3 separate regions of the Homo sapiens genome follow, and all the other regions are linked to region 1. Evidence: fine-mapped expression QTL. A gene starts in region 1. Each other region holds a variant in brackets. All regions are shown on one strand. Distances are between the middles of the regions.

Region 1 (2,757 bases):
GGAGTGGGGAGGGGTGGAGAGGGAGCTGAGCTTCTTCATGCAGGAGATGAAACTTGACAGGACAGGCTGAGATTGGTAAGCATGACTGTGACTGATGGAGGCTGTCTCTGGTTAATCCTGCAGCAGCTCATTGTGATTAACCATGACTGCAGGGCCCGGTCTAGTCTGCAACCCACTAAGAGATAAATTTTGACCGAGACAGATTGGCGTGTCCAGCTGTCACTGAGGAAATGTGACAGACAAGCTAAGGAGCAGCAGCACAAGAGATAAGAACAGACAGCCCTTGGTTTGCATTCTAGCTCTGCCATTCTCTGGCTGTGTAACATCTCTTTGAACCTCAGTTTTCTCTTCTGCAAATTGGGAATACACATACCTTACAAGGGTTAGTGCAAGGATTATAAATACCCAAGTGGGCCGGGCACGGTGGCTCATGCCTGTAATCCCAGCACTTTGAGAGGCCAAGGTGGGCAGATCACCTGAGGTCAGGAGTTCGAAACCAGCCTGGCCAACAAGATGAAACCCCGTCTCTACTAAAAATACAAAAATTAGCCAGGCACGGTGGTGGGCGCCTGTAATCCCAGCTACTTGGGAGGCTGAGGCAGGAGAATGGCTTGAACCCAGGAGGTGGAGGTTGCAGTGAGCCGAGATAGCGCCATTGCACTCCAGCCTGGGTGACAGAGTGAGATTGCGTCTCAAAAAAAGAAATACCCAAGTGGCCTGCCCTAAAATCACATAAGCCAATTCTTGGCAATAAATCACTTAATATAGATCTCCTACTGGCTCTGTATCTTTGGTGGAACCCTGATTAATAGTGCAGGGTTAGACCCACAAATAGTTATTTATTAATACCAAATTATCATCATTATTAATTAAATGCATAATATATGTACTCAGCTGAGCTTTTGTGCCTGGCTTTGTGCTCGGTTCCAGGGAAACAGTGAGGAACAAGACAGGCAGATTCCTTCCCTAGTGCGTTGATAGCCTGACTGAGATGTTAGGACTTGGCCTGCAGGAAGGACACGGGGTGATAATGGCCAGAGGGACTGAGGTGGCGACCGCTGCTGCTGCAGCAGCGGAGGCTGACGCTGGTTCTCTCTGGGCTGGTGGCTGGGTTTCTGAGGCTCTCCCCGAGGGCTGAGTGTGACTGGAAGCTGAGACACTGTGACCGGGATAGAGACTGGCTGACAAAGACAGTGACCGAGCGCCTGACTGGCTACTTCTGAATAGTAGCCACTGGTACAAGCCTTGGCTGTGCTTTAGTGACCATGACTGCTTGAGCCCAAAGTAAGATGGCTGGTGGCTGTGTTTCTGGACGGGGATATAAAATGCATAGGTTAATGAAAGTTGTTCACAATTCAGAAGCTAAAACGAGAAACTAAGAATAACAAAAGGCAACCTTGCATCCGGCGGAACCTGCAGGCACGGGCCATTCTTCCCGCGACCCAGGGCTCTGCCGGACCGCTTCCCCCGTCGCTCCAGTCAGACGCCAAAGCTGGAGAACTTCCGGTGCGTTTCCGCTGTACCGGAACGTGGGGCGAGGCGGTGAGTGTGGCCTCCTGGCCTCTTTTTCCTTTCCTGATTCCTTGTGTATGTGTGGCTGGGCCGCCCCTCTTCTCGGCTCAGAGTCACGGAGTGCCTTGAACTAGGCCCACCTCGCCGGGGCGGCTGGTTCTCTGTTTGTGGGACGCTGGTGTCTCTGGAGGCCCTTCCTGAGAAGCCGTCGCCAGAGTTACGTCGCGGTTTTCTTAACTTTAGAGCCTGGGGGCCGGAGACCCTGATTGCACTCGACCTGGCTCTGCCCTACTCTCTGCGTGACTTCCAGTAAGGTCTTTCCCCGAACTGAGGCTTTGTTTCTCGTTTACAAAATGGATATCATACTTGTATTAAATAAATGTTTACTAAGCGTTGAATCTGTGCTAGGGATACAGCAGGACTCAAGTCTCGTGGCGATGACAGCCTTCAATCAAACATCCAAAACTGCAGTTGTGATCATTGAGACGGAAAGGTACAAGGCACCCCAGATTATATCACAGGAGACCTGACCTAGCCCCAGGGCAAGGAACCTTTACTGAGGAGGTGAATATTGAGCTGAGATCAGAAAAAAGGATTTGACAAAGTGGGGAGGGAAGAGTTTTCTATATGGAGACAGCCTCCAATTTCAGGTTCTGAAAGAGGCCGTTGTGGCTGGAACAGAGAGCTTGTGGGGGACCATTGTGTGACACAAGCTAAAGGGGTTGCCAGGAGTCAGACCGTGCAGGCTTTGTAGGTAATAGGAAGAATTCTGGTTTTTCAAGAACCATATGGGAAACCACTCAGAAGCTGACATGGGTGGTGTTGTGATTAGATTGGCATTTTGAAAAGGTTACTGCTGTTGAATGGAGAATGGGTTGAGGAGCAAGCACTCTGAGTGAGGGACGATGGTAGCTTGGATTAGGGAGGTGGTGGAGAGAAGTGGATGGATGTGACTTTAGGTGTTCCAGGACTGTGAGGAACTCACAGAGCTGTCAGTGACAGGGGCTGGTAGACTGCAGAGTTCTATGCATATTTAATAAACGTTTTCCTAGCATCTCCTCTGTGCTAGGCCCTGTGCCAGCTGCTGGAGATATAGTGAATAGAATTACAGACTGGTGGAATTAGCATGAAAGAAACGTCATTATCAAGGAGGAGCACACAGATGTCACAAGGGAAAATGGCTAATTGATGAGCTGTTATTGTAAATGGAATATCTGTTCATTCAGCAAATATTAAATACTTTCT
Region 2 (2,757 bases), 45 kb before region 1:
CTGTAATCCCAGCATTTTGGGAGGCTGAGGTGGGAGGACTGCTTGAGCCCAGGAGTTGGAGACCAGCCTAGGCAACATAGTGAGACTCATTCTCTACAAAAAATTAGCTGGTGTGGTGTCGTCTGACTGTAGTCCTGGCTACTTGGGAGGCTGAGGCAGGAGGATCTCTTGAGCCCAGGAATTCAAGGTTACAGTGAGCTATGATTGCGCCACTGTACTCCACCCTGGGCAAATGATCGAGACCCTGTGTCTCAAAAAAACATTAAACAAATAAAATAAAAAACACAAAGAATGGGCTAGTGGCGAGAGTGAGCTCAGGCCCTGCCTCTAACCTGCCCTTTTGGTTTTCCAGTATGAGCAATTTGAGAGCACAATTGGCTTTAAGCTCCCAAACCACCGGTCAGCCAAGAGACTGTGGAAGGTCTGCATCGAGCATCATACATTCTTCCGGTGAGCCTGACCTTGGATGGGGTAATGGGGATGGGGCAGAGGCCATGTGTATGGAGGGGAGCAGGGGGAGGAGTTAGTGAGAACTCTAGGAAAGTCCTCCACCCTTTCCCCAAGTCCCTCCCTTCCTGGACCACTTTGAATTGTTGTAGTTGGTGGAGTAGTGGGATGAAAGGCCAGCTGTGGTCTAACCTTGGGCCTGGCAGTGCAGGTCTGATTCCTCCTCCTCCCCTGCATCCCTCTGCTGCAGGCTGGTGTCCCCTGAGCCCCCACCCAAGGGCTTCCTGGTGATGGGCTCCAAGTTCCGGTACAGTGGGAGGACCCAGGCACAGACTCGCCAGGCCAGCGCCCTCATTGACCGGCCTGCACCCTTCTTTGAGCGTTCTTCCAGCAAACGGTACACCATGTCCCGCAGCCTTGATGGAGGTATGGCCCAAATTGGAGGGCTGGGCGGGGAATGGTCTTCAGAGGGAACTGGGGGAGTGGGCATGCTGGGTTCTGCAGAATGAGCAGGAAAATGGTAGATGCATCCCAAGTTCATCTGCACCAGGCTGGCCCCTCAAGACCAGTGCTGTCCCTGGGCAG[CT/C]CTTGGTGGCTTAGTCCCAACCTAGAGCTCACTCCCACTTGAGATGTGATACTACCACTCTCTGGATTCCCCACAACTTCCCTGAGTCGTGGTCTTTTGGGGTCCCAGGTTTAGCCATATGGTTTGGGCCACCTACCCAAGAAGCTTAGCAATCCACCAGTCTAACCTGTGGTCTAACCTTGGGCCTGGCAGTGCAGGTCTGATTCACCCTCCTCCCCTGCATCCCTCTGCTGCAGGCTGGTGTCCCTTACACTGGTCATCATCATACTAGGAGAATAGTGTCTTATGACTGCAGTGTGGAGCTGATGATGCCTTATCTGCTGGGAGGCCAGGGCATCGTTCTTGGTCATTCTTTTGGTTCTACTAGGTTCTGGGCTGATTGACAATCTAACCACATGGCACTCTCCACTGTCCCCATTTCTATTGGATTGATGGGTGCCCTTAACATCAATGAAAACTGGCCCTATATAGTCCTGTAGCAAGCAGATAGGGCTTAAAATGTGGTGCACAAACCACGTTTCATCAGAGTCGCCTGTGAGATTGTTAAGCAAGCACGAAAATTCCCAGGTTTTGCCCCAGACCTACTAAATCAGCACCCTTCAGGGCCCAAGTCTCTCCCCAGGATGTACACACTAGAGTTTGTAGGTGATGTTCGGAAGTCACATGGGTCACTGGGGAGATTCAGAATTATGCAGATCTGAGTTCAAATCTCGGCTTGACAGTCACCGTGGGCTGTTCTCTGGACACTGGAAGTGGTTCATAAATATCTGAATGAATGGATGGGTGACCTTAAGCAACTTATTTAACTCCCTGAGCCTATTTCCTCTTCTACAAAATACATAGTACCTACTTTGCTGTGTTCTAGGGAAAACTAAATGAGATCATGCCTAGAAAATATTCTGTGGCACATAGTAGCACCTTAAGAAATTGTACCCATCATTATTGTTTTTAGGTTTGTAGAGAGTGGCTTAAAGGTGGGAAGTGGGGGCTGGGCATGGTGACTCATGCCTGTAATCCCAGCACTTTGGGAGGCCAAGGCGGGCAGATCACCTGAGGTCAGGAGTTCGAGACCAGCCTGACCAATATGATGAAACCCCATCTCTACTAAAAATACAAAAATTAGCCGGGCGTGGTGGCATGCACCTGTAATCTCAGCTACTCGGGAGGCTGAAACAGGAGAATTGCTTGGACCTGGGAGGCAGAGGTTGCAGTGAGCTCACACCATTGCATTCCAGCCTGGGCAACAAAGCGAGACTCCATCTCAAAAAAAATAAAAAAAATAAAAAATAAAAAGGCCAGGCACAGTGGCTCACACCTATAATCCCAACACTTCGGGAAGCCAAGGCAGGTGGATCACGAGGTCCAGAGATCAAGACCATCCTGGCCAACATGGTGAAACCTCGTCTCTACTAAAAATACAAAGATTAGCCAGGCATGGTGGCAGGCGCCTGTAGTCCCAGCTACTCGGGAGCTCAGGCAGGAGAATCACTTGAACCCGGGAGATGAAGGTTGCAGTGAGCCAAGATTGCACCGCCACTGTACTCTAGCCTGGTGACAGAGCAAGACTCCGTCTCAAAAAAAAAAAAAAAAAAAAAAAGGTGGAAAGTGGGGACTTGGGTAGGGAAACCGTGGATACTCCCAGAACACCTTGGGGCAGGCCTCCAGGCAAGTTAGTTCTACTTATATTTTCTGAGTGTTATATGTGTGCCAGGCCTTGTGTTGGG
Region 3 (2,757 bases), 60 kb before region 1:
CAGGGACTTGGCCAAGATCACTGAGGGCATCAGCAGTGGAGTTAGGACCCGGGGCGGGCGGCGGTGGGGCAGGTCTCTGGCCTTTCTCCTCTCCTTTAACTCAGTCCACAGCTCCCAGACTCCTGCTAGATCCAGTGACAGACAAAAAGAAGGAGACCAGATGGATGCTGTGATGAGTCATGTGCTGCTCTGGGGAGACAGGGCAGCTCTGGCCACTGGCTTTGGTTTCATGGGATGCTCCTGCCTCAGAGGATGCCTATGGCAGCAGTAGCCTGCAGGGAAGATGGGGACCCCTCACACAAGGCCACCCATTATGCATGGAAGCCCTGGCTCTCCTCCTGTACACACCAGCCATGGACCCTAGTTGCCCTGTGGGTCTCAGACGGTAGCGACTTTCATTCTGGGGTCTGTCTTGGCCCCAGATGCCTCTATATTGCTTCTTACTTATATGAAAGGCCATGGCTTAAAACTCACTGAGCAAACTATTCCCTTGCTTGGTCCTGCAGAGCCTAGACATGGAGGAGAAGGACTACAGTGAGGCCGATGGCCTTTCGGAGAGGACCACGCCCAGCAAGGCCCAGAAATCGCCCCAGAAGATTGCCAAGAAATACAAGAGTGCCATCTGCCGGGTCACTCTGCTTGATGCCTCGGAGTATGAGTGTGAGGTGGAGGTAGGGGAGCACTGAGTGCCATATGTCCCGTCCCCGGTCAGCCAGCCTCAGGTCCAGGGCAGGCTCCTGTGTGTACCCAGCTTGGGCCAAACCAGAGGAGTCCTGGACCAGTCACAGTGTCCAGAGAGATGACCTGGCTCGGAGCTCCTTTGTACAGATGGTGGCACCAAAGCCTGGAGAGAGTGGTTATGATTGCAAATAGAATTAGACGAGGTACAGGGCTGGCACCAGGGGAAGATTTTGCAGGGTGACTATACCTTGGCAAGGATGCCACCATGTAAGGGCTGATCTACAAACAGTAGACCTGGGAACTGGGCTCCCCTATTCACCCAGGAGAGACTGACATTTAAATTAGAATCATTTTTATATACTGGGTGGAGAGAGGGCTCCTCCCTTCCTAGTGAATGTCCCTGTCCAGGGCACCATCTCAAGTCTCCAGGACAAACTAGTCACCTGAGGGTTCTATGGCAAGCCCATCACCAC[G/A]TCACAGGGAGGCGGCCCATTGGGAAGATGTCACCCAGGCCATGTAGAAACCCTGTGGTATGGCCCTGCCCCATGGTGGTGACACAGCAGATGCCTCCTTCTGGGTTTGGCCCTCCTGGCCTCACATTTAGGTCTCCTTTTCCTATATAGGTTCTGACTCCCGCCCTAATTCTGAGCTCTCGCTCGCCCCCTCTGTGAGCCCTTAGAGGTTCTATCCCTGCCGAGGCAGCATTCGTGGCCCTTCTCCGCATGTGTGAAAGGGCTCAGAGGGTGTCCTTGCTACTGAGATATATAGGAGCTGCCCCCTTTTCTCTCCCATGCACTGATTTTAGGGATGTGGCTTACTCCTGAGCCCTGGGAGGCTGAGTCCCTCTTCTCTACAGGGTTTTGATTTGTTTTGTTTTTATGTACATGTATTTTTTCTTTTTTTTCTTTTTTTTTTTTTTTTGTTGAGACAGAGTCTTGCTCTGTTGCCCAGGCTGGTGTGCAGTGGTGCGATCTCAGCTCCCTGCAACCTCAATCTCCCAGGTTCAAGCAGTTCTCCTGCTTCAGCCTCCTGAATAGCTGGGATTACAGGTGCCCGCCACCACACCCGGCTAATTTTTGTATTTTTAGTAGAGACAGGGTTTCACCATGTTGCCCAGGCTGGTCTCAAACTCCTGGCCTCAAGTGATCTGCCTGCCTTGGCCTCCCAAAGTGCTGGGATTACAGGCATGAGCCACTGCACCCGACTGTGTATGTATTTTGTCTATAGAAAGATTTCACCTTCCCTGCTCCTGGGACAAAGGAAAGGGCTGTCTTCTATGTCCTCTCTCCTACCTTGATGGGCCCCAAGATGCCATTTCTGCCTGTCCTAGAAGTGCACAAAGCATTTGACTGAGGCTAGGTCCTCTCTCTCTGATGATCTCCAGGTTCAGGAATTCCTTGTCAGGCTTGGTCCCGAGGGCCCAGCCAGACCTTACAGGGGTCTCACTCCCTCTCTAGAGTCCCTGCCTCTTTGGGTGGTGACTGCCTCCTGTTCCCCTGCCATGTGATCCCCTTATTGGTGCTCATCTTTACCCCTGTGGGTTTGGAGTGCCCAGTCGGGTTCTCGGCTTCGTCATTCTGAATGGTGGTTCAGAGAGGCCCAAGCCTAGCTCTACAGGAGTGGGAGGAACCTACCTGGCCCTAACAATGGTACTTCCAGCAGAAGCTGATGGAGGCCCCATGAGCCTCTGTGAAACCTCACTGGCTGTGGGGAAGGGAGTGGTGGGCTAGCCTGGGCTGCCCTGGATTTCACTCAGGGAAGGGAGGGTCACACTGTGACCCTGAGCCCCAAGCCCTCCCCTTCTCCCCCTGCCCGCTTCTGTCATATTCCAGGGGCGGCTTCTCTTCCTCTCACACCCAAAGCTTAGGACTTGCTTTTCTGCCCCTTCGGTCTAAGTTAGCCTCCTTCTCCTAATCACTAAAAAGGAAGGAGAAAGCCGTCACTTCCTATGCCTTCCACTTCAGCTTCTCCCCAAGCAAGCTCAAAGTCCAGAAACCACCACCAGAACTTGGAAGAAGGCCATCAAGGAGCTGGCCATTGTTGTCACCCCCAGGATCCCTTAGGACTCAGAGGGCA

Evidence for each region. PIP is the estimated chance that this variant, and not a neighbour inherited with it, causes the effect.
Region 2: its variant is the best candidate, but not a certain one, in a credible set for the expression of AAR2 in whole blood (INTERVAL, PIP 0.77).
Region 3: its variant is the best candidate, but not a certain one, in a credible set for the expression of AAR2 in whole blood (INTERVAL, PIP 0.60).

What each region holds. Positions count from the first base shown.
Region 1 is chr20:36,234,962-36,237,718 of GRCh38, forward strand. It overlaps AAR2 (AAR2 splicing factor), which reads left to right and starts at 1,517. Exons shown (of 4, transcript NM_001271874.2): 1 at 1,517-1,542. It overlaps LOC105372602 (a long non-coding RNA gene), which reads right to left and starts at 1,505. Exons shown (of 3, transcript XR_936695.2): 1 at 1,397-1,505.
Region 2 is chr20:36,189,925-36,192,681 of GRCh38, forward strand. It overlaps EPB41L1 (erythrocyte membrane protein band 4.1 like 1), which reads left to right. Exons shown (of 22, transcript NM_012156.2): 10 at 353-450; 11 at 698-873. The region is part of intron 1 of LOC124904892 (a long non-coding RNA gene); the gene reads right to left. Among named protein-coding and RNA genes, the nearest start is that of EPB41L1-AS1, 36 kb to the left of the region's middle. The variant CT/C (reference allele first, on the strand shown) is at 1,033.
Region 3 is chr20:36,175,045-36,177,801 of GRCh38, forward strand. EPB41L1 (erythrocyte membrane protein band 4.1 like 1) reads left to right here. Exons shown (of 22, transcript NM_012156.2): 3 at 507-671. It overlaps LOC124904892 (a long non-coding RNA gene), which reads right to left. Exons shown (of 3, transcript XR_007067571.1): 3 at 1-125. Among named protein-coding and RNA genes, the nearest start is that of EPB41L1-AS1, 21 kb to the left of the region's middle. The variant G/A (reference allele first, on the strand shown) is at 1,155.